Regions from separate parts of the Homo sapiens genome. Here regions 1 and 2 are each linked to region 3. The links come from fine-mapping of genetic effects on gene expression. A gene starts in region 3. Each other region holds a variant in brackets. All regions are shown on one strand. Distances are between the middles of the regions.

What was found.
Region 1: its variant is fine-mapped to the expression of LINC03033 in whole blood (TOPMed, PIP 0.96).
Region 2: its variant is fine-mapped to the expression of LINC03033 in blood mononuclear cells (TOPMed, PIP above 0.99). The same link has a PIP of 0.9 or more in whole blood.

The regions. Positions count from the first base shown.
Region 1 is chr14:61,652,535-61,655,296 of GRCh38, forward strand. It overlaps LINC03033 (long intergenic non-protein coding RNA 3033), which reads left to right. Exons shown (of 3, transcript NR_039985.1): 3 at 1,089-2,179. Among named protein-coding and RNA genes, the nearest start is that of HIF1A, 42 kb to the right of the region's middle. The variant GA/G (reference allele first, on the strand shown) is at 1,402.
Region 2 is chr14:61,543,560-61,546,321 of GRCh38, forward strand. All of the region lies in intron 12 of PRKCH (protein kinase C eta), which reads left to right. It overlaps PRKCH-AS2 (PRKCH antisense RNA 2), which reads right to left and starts at 1,925. Exons shown (of 3, transcript NR_188139.1): 1 at 1,535-1,925. The variant G/GC (reference allele first, on the strand shown) is at 1,556.
Region 3 is chr14:61,569,453-61,572,214 of GRCh38, forward strand. LINC03033 (long intergenic non-protein coding RNA 3033) reads left to right here and starts at 1,088. Exons shown (of 3, transcript NR_039985.1): 1 at 1,088-1,308. LINC01303 (long intergenic non-protein coding RNA 1303) reads right to left here and starts at 1,201. Exons shown (of 5, transcript NR_110416.1): 1 at 1,034-1,201; 2 at 92-225. RefSeq lists a silencer at 186-378.

The DNA.
Region 1 (2,762 bases), 83 kb after region 3:
ACCTGCCCTTCCCACATTCTCCTCCTTCTTATTAAGCTTCTCAGATCTACTCCATCCTTCCAGTTGTGTAGCCCCCAAACTTTGGAATAACCCTAAACTTCTCTTTTTTTTTCTCATACAATGCATCTAATCCATTAACCAGACCTGTTGATTCTACCTTCAAAATATATCCAGAATTTACCCACTTCTTGCTGCTTAGACTGCCACCATCCTGGTCCAATCCACCTTCCTCTCTTGCCTGAATTATCTCAATAGCCTTCTAGATGCTTCTTCCCTGCCCCTCACTGCCCTGCCCCTTGCCTCTGCCCTTGCTGCCCCACAACCTATTTCCTACAAAGAGCGATCCCAGTAAACAATAATCCAAATTATGTCATTTGTCTGCTCCAGACCCTCCTGTTTTCCATCTCACTTAGATGAAAAGGCAATTCCAGGCTGTGAACTTCAAGACTCTGTATGATCTGACCTCACACTGGCTTTCAAACCTCATCTTGCACACTGCTTCCCCAGTGTGCTCTGCGTTAGCCGCATGGGGATTTTTATGGGTCCCTGGACACTCCGGGCATTTCCCTGGCTCAGGGCGTTTGCATTGGCTGTTTCTGCTTACTGGAGTTCTCTTTCCCTGCTATATACATGGTTTTCTCTCTCATTTCCTTCAGGTCTTTCTTTACTCAAATGACATCTTTTTTAAAAGAGGATTTCTATCTAAAATTTTATACACATATCTCTGTATCCCCCTTCTCAGCATTTTTTTTTCTCCTTGGCACTTATCACTCTCATGTGTGTGTTTGTTCATGTATTTATTGACTGAGTGATTTTTTTCTCTCCCAATAAGCTGCAAACTCTGTGAAGACAGGGATATTTTTCCCATTTTTGCCCCATCATGCTGCAAGCCCAAGGTACAATTAGAACACATCCAATTCACTGTCCATCTACCTGTGGCACTTCAACCATGACCACAAACCAAATCACTCTTCCTGTATCACATTCCCTGAGAGACTTTGTTTTCTCCCACAGGAAAGATTTGTTTATTTTTCTGATTCAATCAAATGTACCACTAGTTTCTGCAGGATTATTTGTACCTCTTTCAGGATCCTGAGGAATTTGCTCCTGGGCCATGAAGATGGGAAGCTGAGTCAGAGTGCAGTTCTTCACCCAATCCCACAGCCACACGTGCCTGCTTGCTCACGGGATCTTCCCACTCTCCTCGGGAAGGCTTCCGAGCTGCTTCCTCAGGATGTCCTGTGATAGCAGCCTGACCTGTCAAAGCCATGCGAATACCATCTGTTCAGTTATATAACTTGAGATCTGGGAAGAATTCTCAACGTAGGATTTGCTGCCCAAATCAAATCATTTTCAGAAAGGAGATTAAGCATTCTTTGCTGGGAAAAGGAGAAATTACCA[GA/G]AAAAATTATCATTTCACTGAGTATAAACAAACCTTTGTCCAAAATACACAAATGAAAATGACAAATTTGCTTCATTAATATTTGCTTGCATTAAAAATATACACAGGGCTATGTATGGTTCAATATCTTAAGTGCAAAGTAAAATCTTAATTAGGAACAATGGAATTGTTAATTTAATGAATCTTAATTTTGTTTAGATCATTAGCCTGCAGTATAATGTCCCAAGCAGAATTTGGGGTGGGGAGCTTGGTGGTGGAAGAGGAAGTGCTCATTTCTACAGACATGACAAGATTATTAACACTAAAGAATGACTTTTCTTTCATGGGAGGGGAAGATATCTGACCCACCAGCAGTCAGACAGAAACCCTGACTTGTGATTTTAACATTACCTTATATGACCCATGGTCACCTTGTATGACCAAAGAAAACCATTTATGAAATAGCTGTCCGGAGTTCAAGATTTAAATGGTAACTTTGTAGACTAGGTTTTCTCTCATCATCTAATTTACTTGCCTTAACGCTTGTTTCTTTGCCCTTATTCCTACTGGCTCTCGAGTATAATATCCTGAGAATTTATGTTGAACAGCACTAATTTTTTCACTTGGAGCTAGCACATGTTTATGACTAGTACAAGTTTATAACTACAAAAAACAGAGATTTTGTCATCTTAAACTGAATTTACTGGGAATAAAATCAGTCAATTCAGAAAAGTATAACAAAGGAAATAAAAATCACCACAACTCCTACTACCTGAAGATTAAATGGTTAAAGTGTTTTGTATATTCTTCTGTAATTTTTACACCTACATGTTTTTTAAATAAAAATTAACCCTACCTATAAACCAAACAATATTATTTAACTAACAGGAGAAGAATAAATTATATTTTTTGATTGGCTGTATAGCAAAGAGAATCCTGCCATTCAGAAAAAAACAGGGTAAGACAAGGAAGGAAGCCAAATAGATGGACTGCAATGGAAGTTCACCCAGAATGAATAAATGAATGAATGAATGAATGAATGAATGGAGGAGCTATTTTACTGACTGTGGTCAGTCAGGGAACACCTATCAGAAAAAGCAGCATTTGGCCGGGGGCAGTGGCTCATGCCTGTAATCCCAGCACTTTGGGAGGCTGAGGCAGGCGGATCACCTGAGGTCAGGAGTTCGAGACCAGCCTGACCAACATGGTGAAACCCCGTCTCTACTAAAAATACAAAAATTAGCCGGGTATGGTGGCAGGCACCTGTAATCCAGCTACACCAGAGGCTGAGGCAGGAGAATCGCTTGAACCCAGGAGGCAGAGGTTGCAGTAAGCTGAGATTGCACCACTGCACTCGAGCCTGGTCAACAGAGCCAGACCC
Region 2 (2,762 bases), 26 kb before region 3:
AAATGTGTGCAGAATATTTCATGAAGTCACATTATTTTCCTCTTTGGCCGACTTTCCCTCTTGGATCACAGTCAGGGAGAAAGTCAGCTGAGGTGAGGCAACTTTTCAGTGTGACCTTAAATGTGGATGAAAGTGATGGCCCCGAGGAGCACAATTGTTAACTTACTGGCATTTGGGTCCCATTAGGGACATAAGCAAATAATGAAAGTTTTCTGCAAAAGGATTATGCTGTCACCATTCACAGCAGTAGGAACAGAGAGTTTAGGGAAAGGCCTGTGCCCAGCCTAGGATGGCAAGCTATCCACCTCCAACTCCACACCATCTGCACCAACGTGAACTGTGAAAGATTTCAGGCCTGGGACTAATGTTAAATGTTCCCTTAACTCCTCATCTCCACATCACTGGACGGGGGTAGTGGTAGAAGGGCCACCCCACCACCACCACAACACACAAAGCTTCTACCCCCTTAGTATCACCCCGGACCCTCCTTCTCCCGGTCCTGGTTTCTGTTTCATGGTATTCATCCTCCTCTGGCCTCTTCATGGCATCCTCCAGCTGCCACTCTGGCTGCTTCTCACCCTACACCAGGGGTCAGGAGCCATGAAAGTCCGTGAGTGATACCAGCCAGGTGGGAGGTGATAGGGAGTGGTGGGGCATGTGACTGACTGGGCATCTGGTGCCCCATGAAAAGCAGAAGCCCCTGCTCAACTCCAGGCCGTTTCTATGAGAGGAGTGCAGGCCCAGTGTTCCCGAGTATCTCATTTTCCACGAGAAGTTGGAAAACCTGACTTTTCATGTGATGTGACATTTCCTAGCGTTTAAATATTTGAGAAGTAATTAAAATTATTTCAAAACACACTAGGTAGGCCAAATAAAATGTGTCTGAGACCTAGGGCTGGTATCAGTTCTAGTCTGTCTCTGTCACTTTCCACAATCTAACCTGCCCTCCCAGCTTCAGTGGTTACTCAAATTTCAATGTCTCTGAGCGTTAGATGGCCAGCCCTGGCCTGCACCCCAGATTTACCCTAGAATTCATCTGCATGTGGGTGCCCACACACCTCCAATGCAAAGCGGAGCCCATCAGCCTCCCAGATTTGGCAGACTGTAGGATCTCAGTAAGTGTGAGCTATTTTTGTCTTTGTTCCACTAACAAAAATACTACTACTACTAACACTGCTACTAATACTCATGCTACAAAGAATAATCTCTTGCCCCTCTTTTGTTCCATTTCTGTTACTCAACACCACTGCCCCATCAGGCAGCCAGGGAGGACCCTGTGATCTTGGACTCTTCACTCCCATTCCCGGCAGTTAGTGGATTGTGTTTATTCTTCCACGGCCCTCTAGAATGTGCTTCCAACTCTTCCTTCCAATTAACTAGAAACTCTCCTAGTTGCTGAACTTGTCATGTGTTCTCAGCTATTGTCTCAGCCTCTAACTGCTCACCACCAGGCGCTACCTCTGCATTTAAGATTTATTCATCACGCTGTGGCTAGTGTCATCCCCTAAATTGCCGTGCAGCTCTCATCACTCACCTCGGATGGATCCCACCGGCT[G/GC]CCCCCGCAGTTCCTCAGCCATCCCTGCATGCCAGCTGTACCAGGCACTTGTATGCCTCTGCATTTGTGCTGGCTGTGTCCTCAGGCGCATTTTCTTCCTTCATGCCTACTATGTTAATTCTGTTCGTCCTCATCTCTGGTCAAATGCCACCTCTTCCACGAGGCTGTCACTTGCCTTCCCACCACCAGCCCCAGTGTTATTTGCCCCGTGCCTCTTCCAAGCTCTCACAGCACTTGATCTAAGTCTCTTTTCATTTCATCCGGCTGTGTATTATGAAGTTTGCTTGATTCTTCCCCCTTCTCTTGATTAGCTCCTGGATGAAGAGACACTGTCTTTGTCATCTGCGTATCCCCAAGAAACCCCTAGTGTGCTGCCTTACATGTAGTAGACACCTTGAAAACCTTTGTCAATTGAATCAAAGTTTGTTTGTGTGTGTGTGTGTTTTGTTTTTTCTTTTGGTTTGTTTTTTTTGTAAGTTGAGGATGGCTGCATCTAAAGGGCTCAGGCCAAGGTATTAAAAACAAAACTGCTTGGTTATTCAAAAGGATTTATCAGAACCCCAAGAGGCTAAGTATCAAGCTAGTGAAAGGGTTATTCTGCCTGTCCCCAATTCCAAGGGTGCAGTTTTTAGAGGACGGACGGTCGTGTTTGGTCTACTTGTCGTCAGGCAAGGCCTCTTCCACAGTGCCCCATGGAAGCTTGGGTTCAGTGCCAGGGGCAGGGAGGAATGGGCAAGCCTCTTGGACACTGGGGCTTCAGCCACCCTGGCATATAGAGTCCTGCACTGTTTGTCTTGCCCAGAAGAACAGGCTGTACCCACCCATTCACAAGATGTCCTCTCTCACATCATTGGCAGGCCTGGGAATTTCCCACAGGCCATCTGGGTGTGTTCTGCCGTCCTGTCTCCCAAGTTTTTTGCAGCATTGTTTCTTGTTAATTAGCTCTTAGAATAGCAACTGCTCTTCCATCAGGAATTGTATCCCGTTGACTTTCCTAAGGCAAGAATCTACTCATTTCTTTTTTGTAAGCATTTTCTCCCTTCCTGCCTGCATTGCACAGGCTTACTTAGTGAGAGCCCAAGCAGTGTGAACTAACTCCTAGCTCTTACAGAACTGAGTTACTTATAATATGCATCTCCTGAATCCTGGGTGACCACTGTAAGTGCCTGAAGTGGCAGCTGCTCTGACTGGGCCTGTGCAGCTCTGA
Region 3 (2,762 bases):
TTGAACCACAGACCCCTGGTTTAACATCTGTAATCTAGTCAACCCCTCCTCTTTCTTGAAGGCTGAACCAAACACGAAGGGTTTTCCCCACCTTCCAATCCTCATACATGCAGACACCCCCTTTTCCTGCTTTCTCCTTCAGTCATCTTCCTCACCATCCCCCATGCTTGGGCACTCTCAGGAGGGAAATTGTCCTATAAATATCTGTAAAAGGCATGGTATGTCCTGTAGCAGAGAAAGCAAAAAATAAAAATATAATTCCTCCACCCCTGGCATGGCACGTGCAGAGCTCTGCCTGATCCTTCTCTCCCACAAGCCTCGGGGGTGGGTAAACAAAAGTGAGAGGTGAAGCTGCTGCAGCGAAGTACCCCTTCAAAATCTTCAGTACCCTTCAGAGCCAGCGCTGTCATCACTATCACATAAACTGTACAACTCCAACGTCAACCAGCAGCCGCCTGGCTGGCAGCAGGAAGAGCCAATGCAATTTTGCACAGTGGCTTGCTTGCCCAAGGTATTGCCTGGCAAATGGGCTTCTTGTGCAATGGGGAACCACAGGGAGGGGCCTCTTAAATGTACCTCAAAGAAACAGCTCTAACAATGGATGATTCAACAGGCTAGTAATTGGCGCTCACTCTTACCACATTGTTTTGATAAAACGACATAGCCCAACTGGGGATATGAAGGCAGTAAGTAGAAAAGCTAACCTCTTGCTACTCAAATTGTGGCTGAGAACCAGCGACATCCCATCACCAGAAGCTTTATAGAAAAGCCAGGCTCTGTCCCAGACCTATTGAAAGGAGATCTGCATTTTAACATGATTGCGAGAGGATCCACATCTTAAAGTTTCAGAGGCCTAATCCAAAGTCTTCTGATAATGATCATTAGAGTCCCAGCCACCCCCGACTTCCCCCTGGGAAAACCACAACAAATAGAACAAATTCCTCCAAGCTCTGCTCATAAGAAGAACCCACAACCCACAGACACCCCCTCACTCAACTAGAGACCTCACCCACCTGTTTGCAGAGTCACCCACCTTGGGCTACTTCTTTTCTACTATTTAATCTTCTGGGAAAACAGAGGTCTTCTATTTGGAGATAAAAATGACAAAGGAGAACCTCCTGAACAGCATCCAGTTTGCTTTTAGCTTTAGCCATCTCTCTGACCTCAGTGCTGCTGGACTCAGTTCCAAGATCTAACTGTCAAATGCTTTAGGGGAAACGGGAAGAGAAGTCCCTGGAGTAACCCATGTGCGCAGCCTGGCACTGTTTTCACTTGCCTTTGGAAATGAAGGTGCAGAAACCATGGGAGGTAAGGAGGGCACAGACTAGTGACTTCCAGTGTGGGACAGAGGGGAAAAGATGGAAGAGAAGTGCAGAAAACCACTCGGGAAAAGACAGGCTGGAGTGATGCCTGCTGAGACAGGGCCCTGATCTCCCAGGACTTCCCTTTCTGCCTGTTCTGTAGAAATGTCTCGGGTTTTGTGGTTTAGGAAAAGAGATGCTTAGCAAGCTTGTAGAAAATGTAATGTGGGCACTTTGTTGCTGTCCTGGCTTTTAAAGGACTCTGAAGCAGATCAGCTTCAAGGTATTGGCTATTCTGTTTGCAGCCTTAGAAAGACATCCTTGATGTTTTATTGTTCTGCCTTTGCTAAGAGCTGGAAACTCTCCCTGGGGAAATGGCTCACCTTGAAAGAGATGCTATCGTAGCTGAAAATGTTTTAGCTTCACTTCCAATCTCTGGTTCCTTGTGGGAAGTAACTGCTGCTGTGGTATATATGCCCTGTGCCTTTTATTTTTACCATCTTTACCTCGGTGGACACAGCTGGTTGAAACTCAGTAAAACTTATGCTTCCATGGAGATTGATTCAGACAACAGGAAAAATAAGTGTAGAAAAAAACTGCACAGTACAAGGGCTAGATTCAGGTTGTAGAACAAAGTGATTATTACTTAGAATCCTGGATTAGCAAGAGAATAAGAAAGATGCTGAGATTACCTAGTGTTATCACCATCCACGTGAAACGTAGAATAAAACTTTTTCCCCACCACATAGATATTGGGCAGTTTATTATAGATGCTACAAAGGGATTTATTATATTTTTCCCAAAATGGTTAATTAGAGGCATCCCAAATTACAACTCCTTTAGCATAACTCCCAGCTCCATGCAGCCTACTTACTAAGGACCCAGCTACTGACAGCTCAGCTCTTTGCCAATCCAACTTTTTTTCCCCATATGCTCAAACTTTTCTTCTCCAAGAAGACTTCCTGAATGATCCCAATTCATAGGGATCTCATCCTTAATGCAGGGGAAATTCACTGTTCTGGAGTAGTCTACCATACCATCACGCTCTTCTTTTTGTGTAATCCTGGATTTCTTCTCCAGTTGTTTTATTCTTGCCTGTCTACACAGATAGATCAGTAGCCTTCAATAGTCTGCATCTCCTGTTATCTTGCAGCCTCCTACTATAAACAGTAGGTGCTTTACTTATGCCAGTTGGGTTGACCTAGACAGTAGTCTCTAAGTAGCAGTCCTTGGCTCATCCTTCTGAAACCAACGAGCTCTTAGGCAGGCTGAGAAAGGGTTAGGACTGTTCACTCTGGGACATCCTTGGCTCTGTATGAGTGTTGTTTTTAAAAGCAGGGATTTTGTCTCCAGTGCATTGAAGAGATAAAACCCCATTGTCAGCATATTTCTTCAGGATCTTTCTGTGTTAGATCTCACTGCCAAGCCAGAGTCCCCACACACAGACTCTCACTTTTCCCC